4 linked regions of the Homo sapiens genome follow. The protein of the gene in region 2 purifies or fractionates together with the protein of the main gene of each other region. This does not show direct contact. Each region holds a gene or a part of one and is shown on either strand. Other genes may lie near its edges.

Region 1 (3,500 bases), on a different chromosome or scaffold from region 2:
GCCTCCCAAAGTTCTGGGATTACAGGCATAAACCACTGAGCTTGGTCTAATACACGTGTTTTTTATTTAAGCCAAAGTATCTCGATAACAGTTGTTTAAGAGGCCAAAAAGAAAAACCCTGACAAATATGTTTTGATCTTTAGTTCAGTGTGCATCATATACCTTAGCCCCTTTAACCCTTCCTTCTACTGGAAGAGAATTTTGGAAGGAAAAAACTTTTAATTAGACTGAGACTTTTTGAGACGGAGTCTTGCTGTGTTGCCCAGGTTGGAATGCAGTGGCATGCGATCATGGCTCACTGCAGCCTCGACCTGCTGGGGTCAGGTGATCCTCCTACCTCAGCCTCCCGAGTAGCTGCGAACACAGGCACGCATTGCCACACCTGGCTAATTTTTAAATTATTTGTAGAGACAGGGTCTCCGTATGTTATCCAGTGTAGTCTGAACTCCTGGACTCAAGTGACCCTCCTGCCCTGGCCTGAGGTTAGGATTACAGGTTTGAGCCACTGTGCCTGGCCAGACGGAGACTTCTAAGCAGAAACATTTTTGGCCATCCCATCTGGTCTTCTTATTTTGCAGATGAGAAAACTGAGGCTCAAACAAGTAAAAGGCTATACATAGGTGGTTACTAGTACAGGCAAGACTAGAATCCAGGTCTTTTACCCTTAGTCTGATGCGCTCTCCATTATGAAGAACTCTGAATTTGGAATATTTCTCAGAACATGAATCTTAATTACTCCCTTTCACACTTCCCTTCTTAGCACAATCCTTGTTTCAGACTCTTAGATCCTTCTTATGGATGAAAGGGGAACGTAGCCCTCACCAGCTAGGTTCTCCTTTTCCAAGAGACAGAGTTACCCATGCAATTCAAGAGTATTTCACAGGACAGAGGTTAAGAAGCTACTCTCGGGAATAGAAATTTGATACTGTTTAGTACTCATGATTCAAAATTTTATTAGATTCCAGCATTAATAATAACAATTAGTTTAGATAGAAAAGTATGTGCAGGCCGGGTGGGGTGGCTCACACCTGTAATCCCAGCACTTTGGGAGGCCGAGGTGGGCGGATTACCTGAGGTCGGGAGGTTGAGACCAGCTGGACCAACATGGAGAAACCATGTCTCTACTAAAAATACAAAATTATCCGGGCGTGGTGGCACATGCCTGTAATTCCAGCTACTCGGAAGGCTGAGGCAGGAGAATCTCTTGAACCCGGGAGGCAGAGGTTGTGGTGAGCCGAGAGCACGCCATTGCATTCCAGCCTGGGTAAGAAGAGTGAGACTCCATCTCAGAAAAAAAAAGAAAAAAAGCGTGTGCAATAGTTTTAAAAAAATACAATAGTTTTAGTTTTACAGAAAAGTTGTGAAGATAGTACAGAAAGTTTCCATGCACCTCACATTCAGTTTTCCCTGTCAATTTCCTTTTTTTTTCTTTCGGGATGGAGTCTTGCTCTGTCGCCCAGGCTAGAGAGCAGTGGCGTGATCTGGGCTCACTGCAACCTCTGCCTCCTGGGTTCAAGTGATTCTCCTGCCTCAGCCTCCCGAGTAGCTGGGATTACAGGTGTGTGCTGTCACACCCGGATAATTTTTTGTATTTTTAGTAGAGACAGGGTTTCACCATGTTGGCCAGGCTGGTTTCAAACTCCTGGCCTCATGATCCGCCCGCCTTGGCCTCCCAAAGTGCTGGGATCACTGGTGTGAGCCACTGCATCTGGCTTCGCTGTTAATTTCTTATATTGGTATGGTACACTTGTCACAATTAAGGAACCAATATTGACACATTTATTATTAACTAAAGTTCAGATTTCCTTAGTTTTTCTTTAATGTACTTTTGCTGTCCTAGGACTTCATCCAGGATACCACATTACATTGTAACGTGAAACTTTTTTTTTTTTTTTGAGATGAAGTCTCGCTCTGTGGCCCAGGCTGGAGTGCAGTGGCGTGATCTTGGCTCACTGCAAGCACTGCCTCCTGGGTTCATGCCATTCTGTGGCCTCAGCCTCCGAAGTAGCTGGGACTATAGGCGCCTGCCACCATGCCCGGTTAATTTTTTTTGTATTTTTAGTAGAAGTGGGGTTTCACCGTGTTAGCCGGGATGGTCTCGATCTCCTGACCTCGTGATCCATCCGCCTCGGCCTCCCAAAGTGCTGGGATTACAGGCGTGAGCCACCGCGCCCGGCCCACATGAAACGTTTTACATTTATCACTTAGGTAATATTAATGGTACAGTGAAGCTCTAGTCTCTGACTGTAGATGCCTGGAAAATGTCTTTGAGTTATGAGAAACTCAGAAAAAATTGATGAAAGAATATGTTTTCTGCTATGTAGGCAGAAAACAAAACCAAAATATAACCTACTAATTGCCTTCTTCAGAAGTGGGTAGCATTGTATATACTGGAAGAACTAGTTTAGCAGTGTTCTGAGTTCCCTGCTGCCCCTGACAGACTACTGTGCCACCATGGGCATGTCAGTTAATCACTAAACATTGCTTTTCCCATCCCATCTGTGAAAAGATTGGACAACATCATCTTGTTTTCCTCTTTAGATGAAGATACTTGGATATGGACAGAACTCGGGTGTGGTGATAGAAGAGAATTACATAGTTTAAATCATAACCTAGAACTTGGGAACTAAACGATAGAAGAGCTGAACTATGGTAGTCTAGTGTATTTCCCTCTTGAGGCTTCCATAACTGGCCTGGTTGATTTTTCTAGGTCATTTGGGAGCCTGAATTCTCTTGATAAACATGCTTTTGATAATATGGTACAACCTCACTGTACAGGCAGTCCTTTGAACGGCAGTTGGCAGAGGTAAAAATGGCCATGCAAAAAACTACCCAAAGCAGTCTTAATAATTGGGAAAATTATGGTTATTCTGAGACCTTCAAAAATGTCAACACATTAAGAACTCTCCCTGTTTAGAAATATGCAGGAAAGGGCCGGGCATGGTGGCTCACGCCTGTAATCCCAGCACTTTGGGAGGCTGAGGGGGGCGGATCACGAGGTCAGGAGATGGGAGACCATCCTGGCTAACACAGTGAAACCCTATCTCTACTAAAAATACAAAAAATTAGCCGAGTGTGGTGATGGGCGCCTGTAGTCCCAGCTACTCGGGAGGCTGAGGCAGGAGAATGGTGTGAACCTGGGAGTCGAAGCTTGCAGTGAGCTGAGATTGCTCCACTGCACTCCAGTCTGGGCAACAGAGAGAGACTCTGCCTCAAAAAAAAAAAAAAAAAAAATGTGCAGGAAAATGAAACCAGTAAAATTAATATTTAGTATGTCATAATTTAAAGTATCAGATATTAAGAATTAAAATGTTTTATTTCATTAAAAAAAGCTTGTTGGCTGGGCGTGGTGGCTCACGCCCGTAATCCTAGCACTTTGGGAGGCCGAGGTGGGTGGTTCACGAAGTCAAGAGATCAAGACCATCCTGGCTAACATGGTGAAACCCCGTCTCTACCAAAAATACAAAAAACTAGCCGGGCGTGGTGACAGGCACCTGTAG
Region 2 (4,098 bases):
CACTCCACCACACAGCTCCCAACCCCCGGCTCCTTCCCAGCTTCTCCCTCCACATCCCACCACCCTTGACCCCCACCAGACATGGGGTGAGACACTCACGGGCCCAGAATCCGATGGACGCAGGGACGGATGGAAGGATGGACAGACGGACGGACGCGTGGAGAGCCGGGTGGCGCGGCGGAGTGGTCAATGGAGTGAGGAGGGAGGCGCTGACTGACAGATGTCGGGGATGGGGCGGGTGGGAGCCGGTGAGAGGTGGACGGAGGGGGGATGGGAGGCTGAGGGGGCATGGGGAGGAGGCGAGGGACAGATGAGAAGTGGTGAGAGCAGGGGTGTGGACACAGAACAGGAGGACAGCTCGGGATCCATGGAGCCCTGCCTCCCCTCCCCAGCCCACTCACCTTCCCAAACCAGCCACTCCCAATCTCCTGCAGGTAGCTCAGGTGCTGCCGGCTAAGGCCCAGGGGGGTGGTCATGTCTGGGGAGGGCAAGAGGGGAAAGCCCCTGAGTCTCTCCCCCTTCCTGAGTGCTACCAACACACCCCAGGTCAGTGGGGACTGAGACAGAGCAGACATCACTCTCTTTTCATTGGCTGCCACCCACATTCCATGTCAGAATCTCAGCTTCCTCATTGGCTGCTCACAAGGCTCCAGCATCCAATCAGTCCTTCCTTTTGGCATCCCAAGCTCCTATGATGTGATTTCAGCCTCCCATTGGCTGCCTCTGAGACTGTGCTCTATGGTAATCTCACCACCGCTTGCCCCTTAAAAATCCCCAAATCTGGTTTTGGATTAAGCAATGGCTTCCACCAAGATGATCTTTGTCTGCCTCCCCATAGGCTGCTTCCAAGATTCCAGCGCTCCCACCTATGCCTTTCCCATTGGCTGCCGCTGGTCTCAACCGCCCCAGCCCCTGAAGGAACACACTCAACATCTTCTGGCCTTTCCCGGGACACCATGGGATGCTGGTCATGGCGTGGGGCAGTACCTGAGTGTGAAGGCTGCGGGGCAGGCATTGGCAGGGAGACCTCAGCCAGCGGGAGAATGTAGACATCAGGCAGCGACTGTGAGGAGGAGGTCTCCTCCGCAGGGGGAGTGTACTCCCCGGAGCAGTCCTCCCCTTCAGGGTTCTCAAATTCCTGGGGCCAGGAGAGGAGAAGAGGGGTGGGAGAACGCAGGGCTGAGAGACACGCCATCGTCTTTCTCTTAAGTTTGTCTCCCCTTCATTTTTGTAACTGTCTCCCAGTCCCAGCCCAATTTCCATCCCCCATTTCCCCATCCCAAGGCTCCAGATCTTGCCATAGCTTCAAGCTGGAAGGTGCTCTCGGATTTACTGCCCCCTTCTCCCCACCAACCACCTGTGTAGGGGGTAAAGGCCTTGCTGGAGTCTTCCTCCCCAAGTTGAATCCCCTCATGCACCTCACCTTGAAGCCGACATCGCCCCGTTTGCAGCACAGACAGGTGAGGAGGAGGAAGATGAAGGCCAGCAGGCCGGAGCAGGAAATGAGGACCACAGCGTAGGGAGGAGCCAGAGGAGCCCGGCCCAGGGCGAATCCATCTGTGGGCACAGGGCTGGGCTGGGGTCCCAGCTTCAAGTCCCTGGATACCGGAATCATGCCCCCTCCCGTCCCGGCACGTCTTGGACTACAACTCCCGTGATGCTCTGCGACCAGGGTCCCTTGGCAGAGGTGCAGAGTGGCCCAAGGCATTGTGGGAGTTGTAGTTTGGGGCCTTCCCAAGTGGTTGGATTGGGGGTGGGGTCTCTCTTCTCGTCCCAAACTGGGACCCCCGCCACCTCATCCCACCCCATCCCCTCACCCCAGGCTTGGATGAATTCCAATGAGGGTTGAAGGAAAGAGGAGTGATAGTGAAGTCTGGAGCTTGCAGAATTTAAAATACGCTCCCGTGGACAGCCTCATTACCCCTCGTTGGGGAGGAGGACTAGCTCTCAGCTGCAGGCTGGGAGAAGATTCTTGCCCCATGCTGGAACCCCCCAGTTTGTGGGGTTGAGATCTGTCTCTTTTAGGGACGCTTGGCGCACACCGATGTTCTCTATCCCCAGCCCAAGACCCAGAGAAGGGAACTCCGCAAGCCCTGGGTCTCTCCAGAAGCCAGAGACAGCCTCCCGTGTTGTGTCCCCCTTAGAAATAGTATTCCTGTCCTCTGCCCCCAATTCTCCCAGAGGCCCTGTCCTTCCCCTTCTTCCTGCACACACCAGCACAAACACATGCGTGCACGCATACACACATGTTGCCCAAACGGAGCCCCCTCCCCACCCAGCCCCCAGCCTCCCTCCCACAGGCCCTGCTGACAGAGGCACCGTCCCCGCCGCTCCGGGCCCTGCTGGGCTGCGGGAAGACGCGCACCAGGTGACGGGGCAGGACCCGCAGACAGACCCCTGGGCAGACAGCGAGGCCGCCGCGGGGGTGGGGGCCACCGGACAGACTGATGGCCCGACAGACTCACCGGGGTGGGCCGGGGACGCCAGGCAGCCGGAGGCGGAGACGGCCGCAAGGAGGATGAGGGCGCCGGGGGCAGGCATCTTGTCGAGGATGGCAGGGAGGTGGAGGTGGTGGCGGCTGGGGAGGAGGGGGGGGCGGGCCCTCAGCCCCCAGCCATGGGGACCCGCGCGACCCTGGCCTCCTCCCGGCCCAGGAGAGGGGCAGGAGACGCAGGACAGGGGGAGGGAGGGGCTGCTTGCTGGCTCAGGTACCCCCCTCCCCCTCTTTGAAGGGACAGACGGATGAAGGGATGGAGAGGCGGACAGAGGAGAGATGCTGGGGAGCCGGGGTTGCTGGGGTGGGGGGGAGAGGGTAGGATGGGGGGGGCGAGAAAGAGGGCCCCGCCCCCGAGGGCAGCCAGGATTGGGGGAGCAGAGAGCCTGTCACAGGAAGGGTGGGAGGAGGGAGGATGGAGCGTCGTCATGGCAACTGGCTCCCCCGTAGCATTGGCTGCCAGGAGGGAGGGGAGGAAATGGGAGGGGGAGGGACAGACAGGGACCGGCACACACTTGCAGCGGGGGTGGGGGGGCAGGGCCCACGGGTGCCTGGCCCGGACACCGCTGTGACATGCCACCAGCATGGACACATGTGCTACACGCTAAGATGCAGATGTCAGGCACGCGCAGCCCACACACAGCTGACACACGTCGCAGGGACCCTCATAGACAAGCGCATCACATACAAAGGTGGACAGCCATCAGCAGACGGGGACACGTACACGTCACACACAAAGACGCAGGGACCGCACTGGAAACGCACAGGCAGGCCAGCTTCCAGCACAGATGCACCCGGCCACGCAGGAACGTCAAAGCATCACAAAGACCCACACATGCCCCGGACAAAGTAAAGCCCCAGATCCACAGACGCACACGCCACAGACAAAGATCCCCACGGACACCACTGTGACATGCTGACACTCATAGTCACAGCCACGCAGACAGTCCCTAGACAAATGGGCAACAAAGAATACCCACAGACACAAGTATCACATACATGCACGTCACACAGACATGCACAGACAGCAATTGCACAGACACACGCAGACACACACATCACATGAACTAACATAGACACGGACACAGCAGCTACACAGAGACAGGCACATCACATACATGAGTACACAGAAACATAATACATGCATGTATACGGACACGTAACATGCATCACTCACACGGACACAAGCTTCACTCACATGGATACACACAGACACACTACATACACATGCATGCGGGCACACACAACTCATACATACAGGGCTACATAAATCACATGCAAAAATACACATAAATACACCACACACTGATACATACAGACACATATAACATGCACATATACACAGTCACACATACATAAGCACAGACATAGGCACACAGATCAAATACACAGACACACAGAGTTGCACACATCACATACCTAAACAGACATGGACACACACATCACAAATACACACACCTTTCACACAAGGTTACAAAGACACAGAACCCCACCACAGTCACACATCACATACATAAACACACACTGGCACACATAACACATACAAAGAGTCACACACCCACAACACAGACACAGACACGCGCACAGACACACGGGTCGCAAAT
Region 3 (2,767 bases), on a different chromosome or scaffold from region 2:
TATACATGGATGTATCAACAGTGAGGTAGTCATAACTTTCTCCTGACCCATACTGTTGCTTCTGAAAGATTGGAGGTTATGGCAGACATTTTGGGAACATGTAACCTTGCACCATTGCCGTGCTTTGTTGCTTGGACCCATGAATCTTCTGTGGCACAGTTCAGTGGCAAGCTCCAAAGGTGCTCCAAACTCAGTGAGCTGAGTTTCAGAGTAGGACACATTAGAAATGAAAACTATTAATACAAGATGATGAATCAAGTGAGTTAAAATTCAGGGAGTAAAAAACAAGTGTGTTTAAGAACCTGGAAATGAGATGGAGGAACAATTTATTAATTGAGTTTGAAATTTTTGCAGGCTTTATTTCAGGCTGGAGAACTTAAATGGGGGACAGATGAAGAAAAGTTTATCACCATCTTTGGAACACGAAGTGTGTCTCATTTGAGAAAGGGTGAGTGAAAAAAATCTGTATGGGGCAGATACATTGGTAAATTTGGAAAGTGCATGAGCCAGTGTGACAGAATACCTGCTACATAGCAGGGACTTAGAGAATGAATCAGTTTTTGTATTTCTTCCTTTTGGTGACCTGGAGAAATCTCAACATTGTTTTTGCTGCTGTTGTAGCTTTTACAAACTAGAGATCCTGAGTCCACCCTTCACTATTGGAGGATGGCAAGGGAGGTCAGTTCTCTAGATTGTTCCTCTCATAGTCACACATCACTGAATAGTGGCTCACTACACGTATTTCCTCCTAGAGGTTGGTACCCAGGACCTTATCTCTGGATAGTCATCAGCACTTGTGGTATCAGTTGGGAATGAATTTAGTGCAAGTGACAGAGAACCCTAATAGTGGCTTTAAAAATTGGGCTTTTTTTCCAGAGGTGGGATTCCATGGTTGATTTGGCAGGACCTGAGATCTTTCTGGTTTTTCTTTTTGCTCCATTATCCCTAGTGTTTTGGTTTTCTTTCTTCATTATCATAAGATGTCTGCTCTAGCTCCAAACTTAACCATTTCACAGCAGGAAGGAAAGAAAAGGGTAAACTAGTCCTATCTGTGTATCACTTTTTGTAAGTGAGGAGATTTCTCAGCATCCCCTCCAGTAGATTTACCTTTAGGTCTCATTGGCTATAACTCGTAAGGGGGCTGGCAATCAGTGAACAAAGTATATTTACAATCCATTGCTTAGGGCTTGGCACATTGAGGCTTTGAGCACAAGGTTCTGTCAGCAAGGAAGAAGGGGAGATTTGTGTTCAGTAAGACACTACCTAATCAAAGTAAATACCATCTTTCTGGAAAGAGTGATCCCTACATGATTAGGGAATCATTTTTATTTTTTCTAGTGTTTGACAAGTACATGACTATATCAGGATTTCAAATTGAGGAAACCATTGACCGCGAGACTTCTGGCAATTTAGAGCAACTACTCCTTGCTGTTGGTAGGTGATTTACAATGTATTGATATTTTTGGTGGTAAGAGCTAAAGCATTTTATTCAATTGAGGCTGCATCTGAAAATAACCACCTAGGTGTGAAGGAAGAGCTTGATATGATATTTAGGGGAAGCAAACTCCCAAATTTCCAATTCAGAAATTTATTTTGATGTTGGAAATACAGGATTGTCTGGTTAGTTCATCTAAATCCTATGGAAATACTAAGATAATTGTTTAAAAATCATTTTGAAGCTGCATTAAAAATATTATTTATTGATAAACCTGAAATGTCGTGGACATTATCTCAGAGGCTTGTAAACATTATTTCTGATACCTGTGGAATTTTAGAATTTTTTTGAATACTGTTCTCTCAGCTTTGAGGCAGACTAAGAAATTGTCATCTGGTTTAGAAAAGAAGAATATCTTTGATGTAATAGAAGATGTGATGATGGTTGTTTTCAAATTAAATAATTTAGTTTTATTTTAATTAAATATTCAGAATAATCTGGAAAAATTGGAGAACTGAATCTGTGCAGTTGATTGCAGTATTATGTACTCCAAAGCTAGGGAGAATCTAGTTTGTGAGTCTCCTGTGGTCCTTTTGTTCATATGGGTCTGCAGTGAGCCTCTGTCTGCTGTTTGTTCCAAGTATTTGGCCTTGAGCTCACACTTTTGTGCTCTCTGTCTTCAGGAGACTAAGCTAAAGATCTGCATGAACCAACTCTAAAAGTAGCCTTTCACTTGAGTACACAGTTAATGTACTTTTACCAGAAAACTTTTAGACAGGTCCTTCATAATTAGAATACGCATACAAATTAAGACATTTTCAGTTACTGGTGGCTGTTTTTCTTAAGACTTAGAAAAGGGAGAATTAAGAAATCTCCACATGCAAGGATTATTTTTGTATATTAAGGAATTTTCATGATAGATTTTCTGAAGCTAAGCAGACTGAGGTCTGAGCAGCCCCAACCTACATTCAACATGTACATGTTCAGAGAAGAGATCCTTTCTGATATTGATTTATCTGTTTTTGTACTGAAATGGATAAATCTCATGCTGCTCTGTGTGAATCATTGATATTAAAGAATATGTAGAGAGTATAGGAAGATCACCCAAGAGTTTAAAAAAATTAGGTAGTAATCTTGTATTATTTGCTTTAATGTCTTGGAATGAAAACTTCCAAGGGATTTGTGTAATTTATTGGTGATGAAGAATGTTGTGGTATTATGATAACAATCCAGGCTGCCCAAACTGCAGTATCCAAAAAGTCTTCACAGAACCAAGGCGCATAGAAAAACCTGTGCCCTTATTCTCCATGCCTTTCTATGCAGACCTCAGAA
Region 4 (3,359 bases), about 14 Mb from region 2:
CCAAAGTGCTGGAATTACAGGCTTGAGCCACTGCGCTCAGCCTCTTTCTTTCTTTTTAAATGTTCTTTCATTTTGCCAAGAACTGGGTTTCTGTTCCTTTTCCAGGGCGACATGGAGTCCAATGGGAAATACATCACCAAATCTGGAACCCGTGTGGACCACCAGACAGGCCCCATTGTGTGGGGGGAGCCAGGGACCAATGGCCAGCATGCTTTTTACCAGCTCATCCACCAAGGTAGGCCCCTGTGGCCTGGGAAGGGTGATGTTGGGGGAGGGAAAGGATCTTCCAGAAGAGATATCTCACTTAGGTCAGTGCCCTCCTCTAGGCCATATGGCTAGCTCCCATGGGCTGGGGTCATGTGGGTGACCACAGTGCCCTTCACAGGCACCAAGATGATACCCTGTGACTTCCTCATCCCGGTCCAGACCCAGCACCCCATACGGAAGGGTCTGCATCACAAGGTAAGAGCCCCCATCTGGCCCCATCTGGGGGGTCTGGCTCACATTGCACCCAGACCTCTGAAAACCTGGTGCATTGGTTGGCAATCACGTTAGTTTTCTATTCCTGCCGTAACAAATGATAACAAACATGGAGGCTTAAAACAACACTCTTCTTTTGTGGGGTGGGGAGGGGGGACAGAGTCTTGCTCTGTCGCCCAGGCTGGAGTGCAGTGGCACGATCTTGGCTCACTGCAACCTTCCCCTCCCGGCCTCAAGTGATTCTTATGCCTCAGCCTCCCAAGTAGCTGGGACTACTGGCACTCACCACCATGGCCAGCTAATTTTTGTAGTTTTGGTAAAGGGGGGGTTTCACTATGTTGGCCAGGCTGGTCTTGAACTCATGACCTCAAGTAATCTACCTGCCTCGGCCTCCCTAAGTGCTGGGATTATAGGCATGAGCCACCTTCCTGGGCTATCTGAAGAGTTTCTGAAGCTCAAATATCCAGCAGGCCCTGATGTGTCTCTGCTTAGAGTCTTGCAGGCTGAAATCAAGGTGTCATCAGGACTGTGTTTCTTTCTGGAGACCTTAGGGGAAAAGCCTTTGACCTGCTTGTCAGGTGGTTGGCAGAATTCATTTCTCTATGGTTGTGGAACTGAAGTCCAGCTTCCTTGCTGTGGGCTGAAGGTCGTTCTCAGATTCTCAGAGGTCACCTGCATCCTCTAGCTTGTGGGCCTCTTCACTGCAGAACCAGCAATGGCAGGTTAAATCCTTCTCTGAAGCTTTGATTCTGTCTTGCCACTTCTGTTGCATCTCTCTGACTTGTTTACCTTCCTCTTCTACATTTTGCTTTTGTTCCCTAAGTGACAGTGTCATGCTGTGTTGTCTAGGCTGGACTTACAGTGGCATGATCACAGTTCACTGTATTCTCAACGTCCCAGGCTCAAGCAGTCTTCCTGCCTCGGCCCCTCAAATAGCTGAGACTTACAGGCACTAACAGGCACTTACAGGCACTTACAGGCACTAACAGCCTGGCTAACTGTTAAACTTTTTGTAGAGGCCAGATTTCACTATGTTGCCTAGGCTGGTCTCCAACTCCTGGGCTCAAGTGATTCTCCTGCCTCGGCCTCCCAAAGTTTTGGGATTACAGGCATGAGCTACCGTGCCTGGCCCTCTTTTACTTTTAAGGGCCAGTGTGATTAGATTGGGGCTACTAGATAATCCAGGAAAATCTCCCCTTTTGTTTATTTTATTTATTTATTTTATTTTAGAGATAGCATGTCACTCTGTTGCTGAGGCTGGAGTGCACTGGCCCAATCATAGCTCACTACAGCCTTGAACTCCTGGGCTCAAGCAATCCTTTTATCTCAGCCTCCTGAGTAGCTGGGACCACAGATGTACAACATGCCTGGCTAAGTTTTTTTTTTTTTTTAAAGAGACAGAGTCTTGCTCTGTTGCCCAGGCTGGGGTGCAGTGGCACAATCAGGCTCTCTGCAGCCTCACCCTCCTGGGCTCAAGCAATCCTCCTACCTCAGCCTCCTGAGTAGCTGGGAACAGGCACACGCCACCACACCCAGCTGATTTTTTTATTTTTATTTTTTGTAGAGATGGAGTCTCAGTATGTTGCCCAAGCTGCCCTCGAACTCCTTCAGAGAATTTACTGTGCTTTGTCTCAGGTGTGCAGAGCAGCACAGGGTTACGGTAGCACAATCTTGGGAGTCAGTGAGCTGGATTGAATTCTGATTGTTCCTGTCTATAGTTCTGTGATCCAGCACTGTGGACTTGTGGAACCCAAGGCTCTACTAGAACAGGGCGATGATGCCTTTCCTCCTTAGGATCTTAGTATTATTTTTTTTTCGAGACACCGTTTCACTTTGTTGCCCCGGCTGGAGTGCAGTAGTGTGACCTTGACTCACTGCAACCTCAGCCTCCTGGGTTCAAGTGATTCTCGTGCTTAAGCCTCCGGAGTAGCTGGAATTACAGTTGCACACCACCACGCCCAGCTACCTTCTTAGGATCTTAAAAGATAGATGTTGGTAAAATTGTGAGCAGGACCCCTAGCAAGTGGTGTGTAGTTCTTTTTTTTTTTTTGAGATGGAGTCTAGGTCTGTCGCCCAGGCTGGAGTGCAGTGGCGTGATCTTGGCTCACTGCACCCTCTGCCTCCCAGGTTCAGGTGATTCTCCTGCCTCAGCCTCCTGCCTGATGACAGGCATGCGCCACCATGCCCAGCTAAATTTTTTTTTGGTATTTTTAGTAGAGACGGGTTTCACCATGTTGGTCAGGCTGGTCTCGAGCTCCTGACCTCGTGGTCCATCCGCCTCGGCCTCCCAAAGTGTCGGGATTACAGGCGTGAGCCACCGCGCCTGGCCACTGGTGTGTAGTTCTTAAAGAGCAGTTATCACTGTTCCCTGCCTTGTGGTGTCATCGGATGTGTCCCCCTCGCTCCAACTGAGCTGTACAGCGAGTGACCCAGGCTGGGACTGACCCCTGCTGAGAAGTACCAGGCGGTCTTGTCCCTCTGCCTGAAGCCCAGACAGTGCTCTCAAGCATAACTGATGTCTCGCTCATCAGATCCTCCTGGCCAACTTCTTGGCCCAGACAGAGGCCCTGATGAGGGGAAAATCGACGGAGGAGGCCCGAAAGGAGCTCCAGGCTGCGGGCAAGAGTCCAGAGGACCTTGAGAGGCTGCTGCCACATAAGGTCAGCACTTCTGCATTTGGCTTTGGGGTGCATGCTGGAGTTGGAGGTGTGAAGCTATGGCACCAGGCAGGGGCTTGGGGCGTGCCTGGCTTGTCCTACAGAATGGGAGGGCCTGTCCTCACAGACCTGCACGTCTCAGCCTCTGGGGCAGGGTGTGCTTCCCTTCAAGGGGTTTAGGGATCAGGACTCTCTTGGAGACATTCCTTGGTGTTTTCTGCA

Evidence for each region. The genes of interacting proteins can lie anywhere in the genome.
Region 1: the proteins of LMTK3 (region 2) and UBE2V2 purify together in Homo sapiens (affinity purification with mass spectrometry; one large-scale study listed by BioGRID and IntAct). This does not show direct contact.
Region 3: the proteins of LMTK3 (region 2) and ANXA5 purify together in Homo sapiens (affinity purification with mass spectrometry; one large-scale study listed by BioGRID and IntAct). This does not show direct contact.
Region 4: the proteins of LMTK3 (region 2) and GPI purify together in Homo sapiens (affinity purification with mass spectrometry; one large-scale study listed by BioGRID and IntAct). This does not show direct contact.

Annotation. Positions count from the first base shown.
Region 1 is NC_000008.11:48,011,431-48,014,930, forward strand, and holds part of UBE2V2 (ubiquitin-conjugating enzyme E2 variant 2), read left to right. Parts: intron 1-3,500. UniProt on the Homo sapiens protein: Has no ubiquitin ligase activity on its own. The UBE2V2/UBE2N heterodimer catalyzes the synthesis of non-canonical poly-ubiquitin chains that are linked through 'Lys-63'. This type of poly-ubiquitination does not lead to protein degradation by the proteasome.
Region 2 is NC_000019.10:48,509,036-48,513,133, forward strand, and holds the start of LMTK3 (serine/threonine-protein kinase LMTK3 precursor), read right to left. Parts: upstream 2,801-4,098; 5' UTR 2,579-2,800; coding exon of another isoform or gene 2,542-2,578; coding exon 2,466-2,541; intron 1,558-2,465; coding exon 1,424-1,557; intron 1,139-1,423; coding exon 988-1,138; intron 479-987; coding exon 402-478; intron 1-401.
Region 3 is NC_000004.12:121,670,214-121,672,980, reverse strand, and holds part of ANXA5 (annexin A5), read left to right. Parts: intron 1-354; coding exon 355-448; intron 449-1,338; coding exon 1,339-1,434; intron 1,435-2,767. UniProt on the Homo sapiens protein: This protein is an anticoagulant protein that acts as an indirect inhibitor of the thromboplastin-specific complex, which is involved in the blood coagulation cascade.
Region 4 is NC_000019.10:34,396,196-34,399,554, forward strand, and holds part of GPI (glucose-6-phosphate isomerase), read left to right. Parts: intron 1-105; coding exon 106-235; intron 236-385; coding exon 386-462; intron 463-3,011; coding exon 3,012-3,140; intron 3,141-3,359. UniProt on the Homo sapiens protein: In the cytoplasm, catalyzes the conversion of glucose-6-phosphate to fructose-6-phosphate, the second step in glycolysis, and the reverse reaction during gluconeogenesis.